3 separate regions of the Homo sapiens genome follow, and regions 1 and 3 are each linked to region 2. Evidence: fine-mapped expression QTL. A gene starts in region 2. Each other region holds a variant in brackets. All regions are shown on one strand. Distances are from middle to middle.

Region 1 (2,794 bases), 51 kb after region 2:
AAAAAGAATCAGGCAGAGCAGTGGGAAGACAAGTGTCGGTAGGGTGTGGAGGGGGTGCTGTTTTTAAGACTGGGTTGTCAAAGACATCCTCTCCAGTAAAGCAGTATTGTGGGCTGAGTAATATCCCCCCAAAATTCATGTCCACCCAGAGCCTCAGAATGTGACCTTATTTGGAAAGAAGGTTTTTGCAGATGTAATTAGTCAAAGATCTCAAGATGATGTCATGCTGGATTTAGGGTGTACCCTAAATCCAATGCTGAGAGTATCCTTATAACGAGAGGAGAGGACACAGAGAAAAGGTGGCCACATGGAGATGGAGGCAGAAATTGGAAAGACACTGCCACAAGCCAACCAGATTGGAATGCCTGGGGGCCACCAGAAGCCAGGAAGAAGCAAGGAAGGACCCTGCCCCAGAGCCTTCAGAGGGAGCATGGCCCAGTCAACACCTTGATTTTGGACTTCTTAGCTTTCTGCACTGTGAGAGATTACATTGCTGTTATTTTACATTTAAATTTTATTTTGAATTAATTTTACTTTAATTTTATTTTGTTCAATTGCCACCATACCAAGGTTGTGGTCATTTGTCGTGGCATCTCTAGGTAGCTAATACAGACAGCGCCTGAGTGGAGCTCCGAGTGAGGAAAAGAGTGAGCCAGTAGAGCAGGACCAGCCAGGGCAGGGACAGAGGCAGAGGGAAGCCGGTGAGAGAGGGATGCAGGGTGCAGGCAGCACTGAGGGAGGAGGGTGTGAGGAGAAGGATGTAGGAGAGAAGGCCAAAGTGGTTTCAGGGAACAAGATGGAGGAGACCAGAGTAAGGATTTTTTTTTTAATGTGTGTATATATGTGGGGGTGTGTGTGTGTGTATTTATGTATATATACACACACATATATTTTTTATATTTATATACTTTTAAAAAATATTTTTTATATTTTATATACACACTTTTTAAATATATATATTTCTCACTCTGTCACCCAGGCTGGAGTGCAGTGACACAATCTTGACTCACTGCAACCTCTGCCTCCTTGGTTCAAGTGACTCTCGTGCCTCAGCCTCCTGAGTAGCTGGGATTACAGGTGTGCACCACCATGCCTAGCTAACTTTTGCATTTTTTTGTAGAGACGGAGTCTTCCCATGTTGCCCAGGCTGGTCTCAAACTCCTGGGCTCCAGCAATCTGCTCACCTTGGCCTCCCAAAGTGCTGGGATTATAGGTGTGAGCCTTAGTTTTATTCTTAGCAAAATGAGTAGCTATTAGAGCAAAGAGCCACTAAGAGGATCCTTCTGGCTGCCATGTGGAGAGTGGACTACAGGATGGCAAGAGTAGTTGTAAGCAATCAGGAGGAGGCTGTCTCAGGCGTACAGGAGAGAGAGGCTGCATTAGCCCTTCTTGCGTTGCTATAAAGAAATGCCTGAGGCTGGTTAATTTATACGGAATGGAGCTTTAATTGGCTCACAGTTCTGCAGGCTGTACCAGCATGGCTCCAGCATATGCTTCTGGTGAGGCCTCAGGAACCTTACAATCATGGCACAAGGCAAAGGGAAGCAGGTGCGCCACATGGCAGGAGAGGGAGCAAGAGAGTGAGGGGGAAAGTCACACACTTTTTTTTTTTTTTTTTTTTTTTT[G/TG]AGAAAGGGTCTCACTCTGTTGCCCAGGCTGGAGTGCAGTGGTATGATCTCAGCTCACTGCAACCTCCACATCCTGGGTTCAAGTGATTCTTGTACCTCAGCTTCCCAAGTAGTTGGGACTACAGGCACACACCACCACGCCCATCTAATTTTTGACATTTTTAGTAGAGATGGGTTTCACCATGTTGGCCAGGCTGGTCTTGAACTTCTGGCCTCAAGTGATCTGCTCACCTCAGCCTCCCAAAGTGCCAGGATTACAAATGTCAGCCACTGCGCCCAGCCAGTGCCACACACTTTTAAACAACCAGATCTTACGTGAACTCAGACCAAGAACTTACTATCACAAGGACAGCACCAAGCTATTCATGAGTGAGGGATCTGCCCCCTGACCCAAATACCTCCCACCAGGCCCCACCTCCAACACTGAAGATCACATTTCAACATGAGATGTGGACGGTACAAACATTGAAACCATATCAGGGGTTGATGTTTGGACCAGGGCAGTACCCATAAAGGTAGGGATGTGATTAGATTGGGGAGATATTTTGAAGGTAGAGCTACAGGATTTGCTGATGTGGGCTGTGAGAAAAAGTGGAGCTCGAACTGACTCCAAGGTGTTGGGTCTGAGCAAGGAATCAAGCTGTCACTTACCAAAATGGGCAAGACTTGGGGTGGAGCAGGCTTGGGTAAGGGCTGCATGTGGGATGTGTGTGAGGGGAGAGGGTGGAGAAATGTAAAGCTCTGTTTGGGCCATGTTAAGATCCAAATGCCCACGATACCTCCCAGGGGAGAAGTCAAATAGCTGGTTGGATATATGCAAATGGAGCCCAATGGGGCAGTGGGAGTGAAGATAGACTTTGGGAATAGGGGTGGAAAGAATCAGCTTATATATAGGGAGCTATTAAAGCCATGAGACTAGCTGATATTGGAGGGAGTGGATTTTTGGGAAGAGTGGAGTTTGCAGACAGCACCTGGAGCCCTGTGAAGCTTAGACATGGAGGAAATGAAGATGGACTAGCAAAGAAGACAAAGAAGGAATGACTGGTGAAAAGAAAAAAGGGGGAGGCCGGGCACGGTGGCTCATGCCTGTAATCCTAGCACTTTGGGAGGCCGAGGCAGGTGGATCACGAGGTCAGGAGATCGAGACCATCCTGGCTAACACGGTGAAA
Region 2 (2,500 bases):
ATTACTGGTTTTATGCTGTAGAATCTGTGACACAGAGAGGTTGAGTAATTGCCCTAAGGTCACACAGCTTCTAAGTAGCAGTGCTGGATAGATCTGACTCCACAGACTGTGCTCTTAGCTGTGTCAAGCAGGAAGGCCCAGGGTTTCATCCAGAAAACAGAATGTGAAAAGGGACTGGAATGAAAGCAACCTGTACTGGGTGCAGAGGTGCTGTCGATAAAGGATGAGGGATGGGAAAGGAAGACAGAAGAAAGGCCTAGAAGATCAAAGGAGAAGGGTGTTCAAGGCTGCAGGCAGCACTGGAAGCCAGGCCAGCTCAGTTGACCACCTACTCTGGGCACATCCCCAACCCAGCCTGTCCCTTCAGGTCGGATTTGCAATTCTCCTGCTCTCCCTCCTCCTAAACACAAACAGGAGATTTACACTCTCAAAGTCTCTCCCCACAAATGACTTATTAATCACAAAGGGAAAAATTGTAACTTTGCAGTGGCACAACCTGGTCAATGCCAGCTTAACCAAGTGACCAAAGTGGATATTCAGGGAAGGCTCTGGAAGGGCATTTGGGGGAAGTGTAGAAAGGTTTTGTGAGGAGCACTCTGAATGACGGGGGTAGGAAGCCTTGGGGACTGAGGAGTCTACCCTAACAGGGCAGGGTCCAGAGGGGGAAGGAGGGGTATGTCTCGGGGGAAGGGAGAAGTATTGAGGTGGGGGAGGTTCTGAGGTTTGAGTGAGGCCCTGGGGAGGGACTTGACAGTTTGGGTGACAGGAGGGTCAGAATAGGGTCAGTATGGGATGTGTTGGGTGGGTAAAAGCTGGGTGAGTGCAGGGCTGGGGATAGGGTCTCCAAGGACAGTGAAAGGGTCGGGAGTCGCGGGCGAGGGCTCTAGGGCAACGGCCAGTGGAAGGGGGGGCTCCTGTGGCGTGAAGTCAAGCCAGCCCGAGGGTGAGGCGATTTGGACAGTCCGACCTGTGGCGGCGGGAGGGCGAGGGTGGCGGAGGGCGCGAGGTAGGCGGCGGGGCGTGCCGGGGCGGGGCCGGGGCGGGGCCGGCACCGCCCGGCGGGTCCCCCCGCGCTCCAGGGGGCGCTGTGAGCCTGGGCGGCCCCAGGCCGGGCGGCGGCCGCTCCCAGTGAGCGCGGCCCCTTTTCCGGGTTTCCTCCGCCTCCTCCTCCTCTCCTCCTTCTTCTCCGCTGCCGCCGCCGCTGCCCCTTTCCCGGCCGGTGGCTGCCGCTGCCGGTGCCGCCGCCGCCGCCTCCTGGGGGCCGCGAGCCGAGCGGAGACCGCCGCGGAGCGCGAGCGCCGCCCGCCCCGCCGCCCCGCCGGCCGCTCCAGGGCCGGGCCGGCTCGGCCGGCGCCCCCCGCGCCCCCAGCCCGCCCGCCCCCGCGGGCCCGGCCTGGCGCGGCCGCCCGCCGCCGCGCTCCTCCTCCTCCTCCTCCAGCGCCCGGCGGCCCGCTGCCTCCTCCGCCCGACGCCCCGCGTCCCCCGCCGCGCCGCCGCCGCCACCCTCTGCGCCCCGCGCCGCCCCCCGGTCCCGCCCGCCATGCCCGGCCCGGCCGCGGGCAGCAGGGCCCGGGTCTACGCCGAGGTGAACAGTCTGAGGAGCCGCGAGTACTGGGACTACGAGGCTCACGTCCCGAGCTGGGGGTAAAGCCGTCGCCGCCCCCCGCCGGGCCCGCTGATCCCTGCCCCCGCCCGGCCACCCCCTGCGAACCGCACTCGGGCCCGGTGGTGTCTCCCGCCGACCCCTCCGCGGGCCCGCAGGGAGGCAGAGGTCCCGCTCTCGCACATGTCCTCGTCTTCCTCTTCCCTCCCCTTTACCCCCGTTTCGTCCCTTTCTCCCCGCTTTGCGCACCCCTTTCCCCCAAGGAATGCTTTTTTACTCGGGGAGAAGTGTGGGGTCCAGGGATCGACGCCGGGTGGAAGTGAGGGAGCTGCCCTTCCTCACACTTCTGGGTTTCCACTGGGGTGGGAAGTCAACAGCTGTCCTTTGGAGCTATTAAAATGCCCTGCCTTTTAGGTTTTCTGAGATGAGGTGGTGGGAGGAAATTTCTTAAAGACGTCCAGATTTTTAAAACAGGCATTGTCTACCTTGAAGATGTGAAACGAGAAGCAGGTGCTGGGGAGCCGCGGGGCACAGGGGGCACCCTCTAGGCCTTCAGGACGGGTGCTTTGCTCGCCCCTCTGGATTGGCTCAGAGCGTTGCCTTCCTGCCCCATCTTCCCAAGTTAGGAGAGACCAATTAGGTTAGGAGCTCTGCAGAGTGAAGGGAGCCAAGATTATGTCGTGGCTTTCATTTAGGGAATGAGTTGTGACGTGATGTATAGACACTTCCAAGTGTTTGCCTGGTGGAAGCGGCTGAATGACGTGTACAGTGGGCATAGGCTTGGTTAACCCCCAGTCCTGGCATTTATGTGTGTGTCTTCCTTTTACAGTAATCAAGATGATTACCAACTGGTTCGAAAACTTGGTCGGGGAAAATATAGTGAAGTATTTGAGGCCA
Region 3 (2,847 bases), 35 kb after region 2:
TTTCCGTTGAAAGGGTGGGTTTGCCATGGGCTTCTCTCAGCACTCACCACCCTGATTGCCTGACTTTCCTCCTGCTTTCTTGCAGACCCTGTGGTGAAGGAGCAGTCCCAGCCTTGTGCAGACAATGCTGTGCTTTCCAGTGGTCTCACGGCAGCACGATGAAGACTGGAAAGCGACGGGTAATGCGGCATTGATGCTTGCCAATAAAACCAACCAACCAAACACAAACCTTGAAGGAAAACTACAGTGTGATAAAAAGAAATTCTTATCATTCCTTCTAAATGCACAGAAGAGTAAAGACCTAAAAGTCTGTCAAAAAGCAAGAAAGAAACTCCCCAGTGCTAGTCTCCAGGGAGCTGTCACTGTGGCAGCATGGGGATGCACCTAGTTCAGGATCTGAAGGAGCTCTGCCTTTGGAATGCATGGGAGATAGAGACTCGGAGTTGTTGTACATTTACCTTTGTTTAACAGGGCACCACTGTTGAATTAACCCATTCAGTCAACAAGCTCTGAATGTCTGACTTCCTATCTATTCCATTGTGGTCTGGGTTTCCTTTGGTGAAATTCAGGCTCAAGTCTTAGCGAAATGTCAGCAGTCTATACTGACACACCAGCCTCATTTACAAAAAGGAGATATTAAAACAGTGACAGTATTTTTTTTTTAAGCTCTTTACAAATCCACGTTTTATGTATTTTTTAATGACATGAGCTCTCCAGGAAATGTACCTCATCCCCGCAGTTTTCCTCCAAGTGGATTCATTTGGGAGCAAACTGCAGTCACTTTCACAAGAGTCCTCTTTGATGTCAGGAGGGATCACGAAACCTTGCAATGCCATGAACTGGTCCATGGTTATCATCAAAAGTTCCATGCTAAGTGCATAACTTGGAGCTCACTATAACCTTTGTTGATTTCCCTAACCATAAAATCTTGTTGCTATTTTTTTGTTGCTTTTTCTTTTTTTTTTTTTTTTTTTTTTTTGGCAGCCTTGTAAGGAGAACTTCACCATTTCCCAGCACATCCCTATGTGTGCGCCTATTTTAATGCACCTCTCTGAAACAGAGACCTTTTTGTTCACAACCATAACTAAAGCTGGAAAGTCAGTCTTCAGGCAAGGCGAGGGAGGAAAACATCCCATTAGAATTTTTTCAGGAAAGACTTATGGAAAAAAAT[A/C]TCTCTCTCCCACCTCCTTTTATCCCCATGAGACACAGTTTCCCACTGTAATCAGGGTAATATGCATTTGTAAGTTCTGATATGTGATACATTTATGTGATGGCAAAGATAAGTCTGTCTTGCATGCAGGTACTAGAGTTGTGTGGGCAGGGTCATCTGAAACTCAAGCAACTCAGAGGAATATACAAGGGGCTTGGGGAAGAAAATGGTGCTCCCGGAGCAAGTGTTGGATCCATTTTGCAAACCTTCATGTTAGCAGAGAAAGCTAGAGTTTGTTTAAACAAAAATAGGGCTGATTTCATTTTGGGGACTCAGGAGCAACATGGTTTGTAGGCAGTCCCCTCACCCCAGCTGCAGGGCCATGCCACAGCTGTGGGGACTTCACACACCTAGGCTAGAACTAGAGGTGTCTACCACATCACCCTTTAAGATTTCTTTATTAACTATTTAATAATGCCATACATTTTTATAAGGTTAGATGTTTGTTTGAAACATTTGTTTACATTCCATATTCCAATAAAATCTTATTGGTATTGGTAGCAGATCCTACTCTAAATGTAGATTCTATTTTTGTCGTTTGGTCTGTGGGAACTTAAAATACAAATGAAACTCTTCTCTTATTATAGAGTTGAGTTTATAGAGTAAAAAATAAATAAGATCCCAAAGCCAAGGAATGCATTCAGTTAAGGTTCTCATACCAATGCTGCCTGCTTGCATTGCACATTCTGTATACTAATGTAAACATTTGTTCTACCTGAAAATCAAAAGCAAGATGTGAGCTCTTTGGCTAAACCTGTATTGATATGTCAGGCAGCAAAACTCAGTGTTTGAGATTATCAAAAGCCTTCTAATATGCCCTTATAGGCAATCCTGAAGCATTGGTTATCATCAGGGAGATGTGCCACTGCGTGTCTTTCCTGCTCCCCCTCCAATCTCCTTTATCACCCCACCCCACTCCTCAGCCCTCCCTTTTTTTTTTTAAGTTGCCTGTCTGGACCAGGCAAGAGGTGCCTACTGGAGGGTCTTGGTGAAGCGGTAACTCCATTCCTTTCCCTTGGGTCCCCCAAAGGTAATAAAAGTACCTGGAGGAGAATAGTCAGGTGATTGACCTCTGCCTGTCTCTCTGACGGTGATGTAGGTGCAGACACCGCCTGCCTGCCTTGTCCTGGGGTTTTGTAACTGCAGCTTTGACACAGGCATTCTTCCTTTGAAGCACACAGCTTGCTTTTCCAGCACCTAGACTTTTACCTCTCTTCATGCCTTAGACTTAGACCATAACTGGGCTTGAAATGCTCACCCCTTCCTGGGTCTGGTCTTGGCACCTAGGCTATTCCTTTCCAAACTGAAGTGAGTCCAGTTTCAGACCATCTCTTTTCCTGTCTCCAAAAACCATTTTTGTTTCCAAACCTAGCTCCCCCGAAATTTTAAGACTATTTACCTAGATTCGGAGATGGTCTTGGAGAGTTCCAAAAGGGGTGTGTGTGTGTCTGTGTGTGTGTCTGTGTGTGTGTCTGTGTGTGTGTCTGTGTGTGTGTCTGTGTGTCTAATATTTAGACTAAACCATGGTAAATGTACGCACCCAGTATCCTTTTCAGTTAGCATATTCTTTCTTAAACTCATCTCAGTACTTTTCATTTGTTTGCTTCATTATCTTAAACAGGTTAAAAGTGCCTATG

What was found. PIP is the estimated chance that this variant, and not a neighbour inherited with it, causes the effect.
Region 1: its variant is the best candidate, but not a certain one, in a credible set for the expression of CSNK2A2 in lymphoblastoid cells (TwinsUK, PIP 0.87).
Region 3: its variant is the best candidate, but not a certain one, in a credible set for the expression of CSNK2A2 in blood mononuclear cells (TOPMed, PIP 0.55).

The regions. Positions count from the first base shown.
Region 1 is chr16:58,145,715-58,148,508 of GRCh38, reverse strand. The region is part of intron 3 of LOC101927556 (a long non-coding RNA gene); the gene reads right to left. Among named protein-coding and RNA genes, the nearest start is that of CFAP20, 18 kb to the right of the region's middle. The variant G/TG (reference allele first, on the strand shown) is at 1,626.
Region 2 is chr16:58,196,777-58,199,276 of GRCh38, reverse strand. CSNK2A2 (casein kinase 2 alpha 2) reads left to right here and starts at 1,171. Exons shown (of 12, transcript NM_001896.4): 1 at 1,171-1,644; 2 at 2,433-2,500. The coding sequence starts at 1,541. RefSeq lists silencers at 818-947, 998-1,267, 1,668-1,737.
Region 3 is chr16:58,161,386-58,164,232 of GRCh38, reverse strand. CSNK2A2 (casein kinase 2 alpha 2) reads left to right here. Exons shown (of 12, transcript NM_001896.4): 11 at 86-179. The coding sequence ends at 162. Among named protein-coding and RNA genes, the nearest start is that of CFAP20, 33 kb to the right of the region's middle. The variant A/C (reference allele first, on the strand shown) is at 1,172.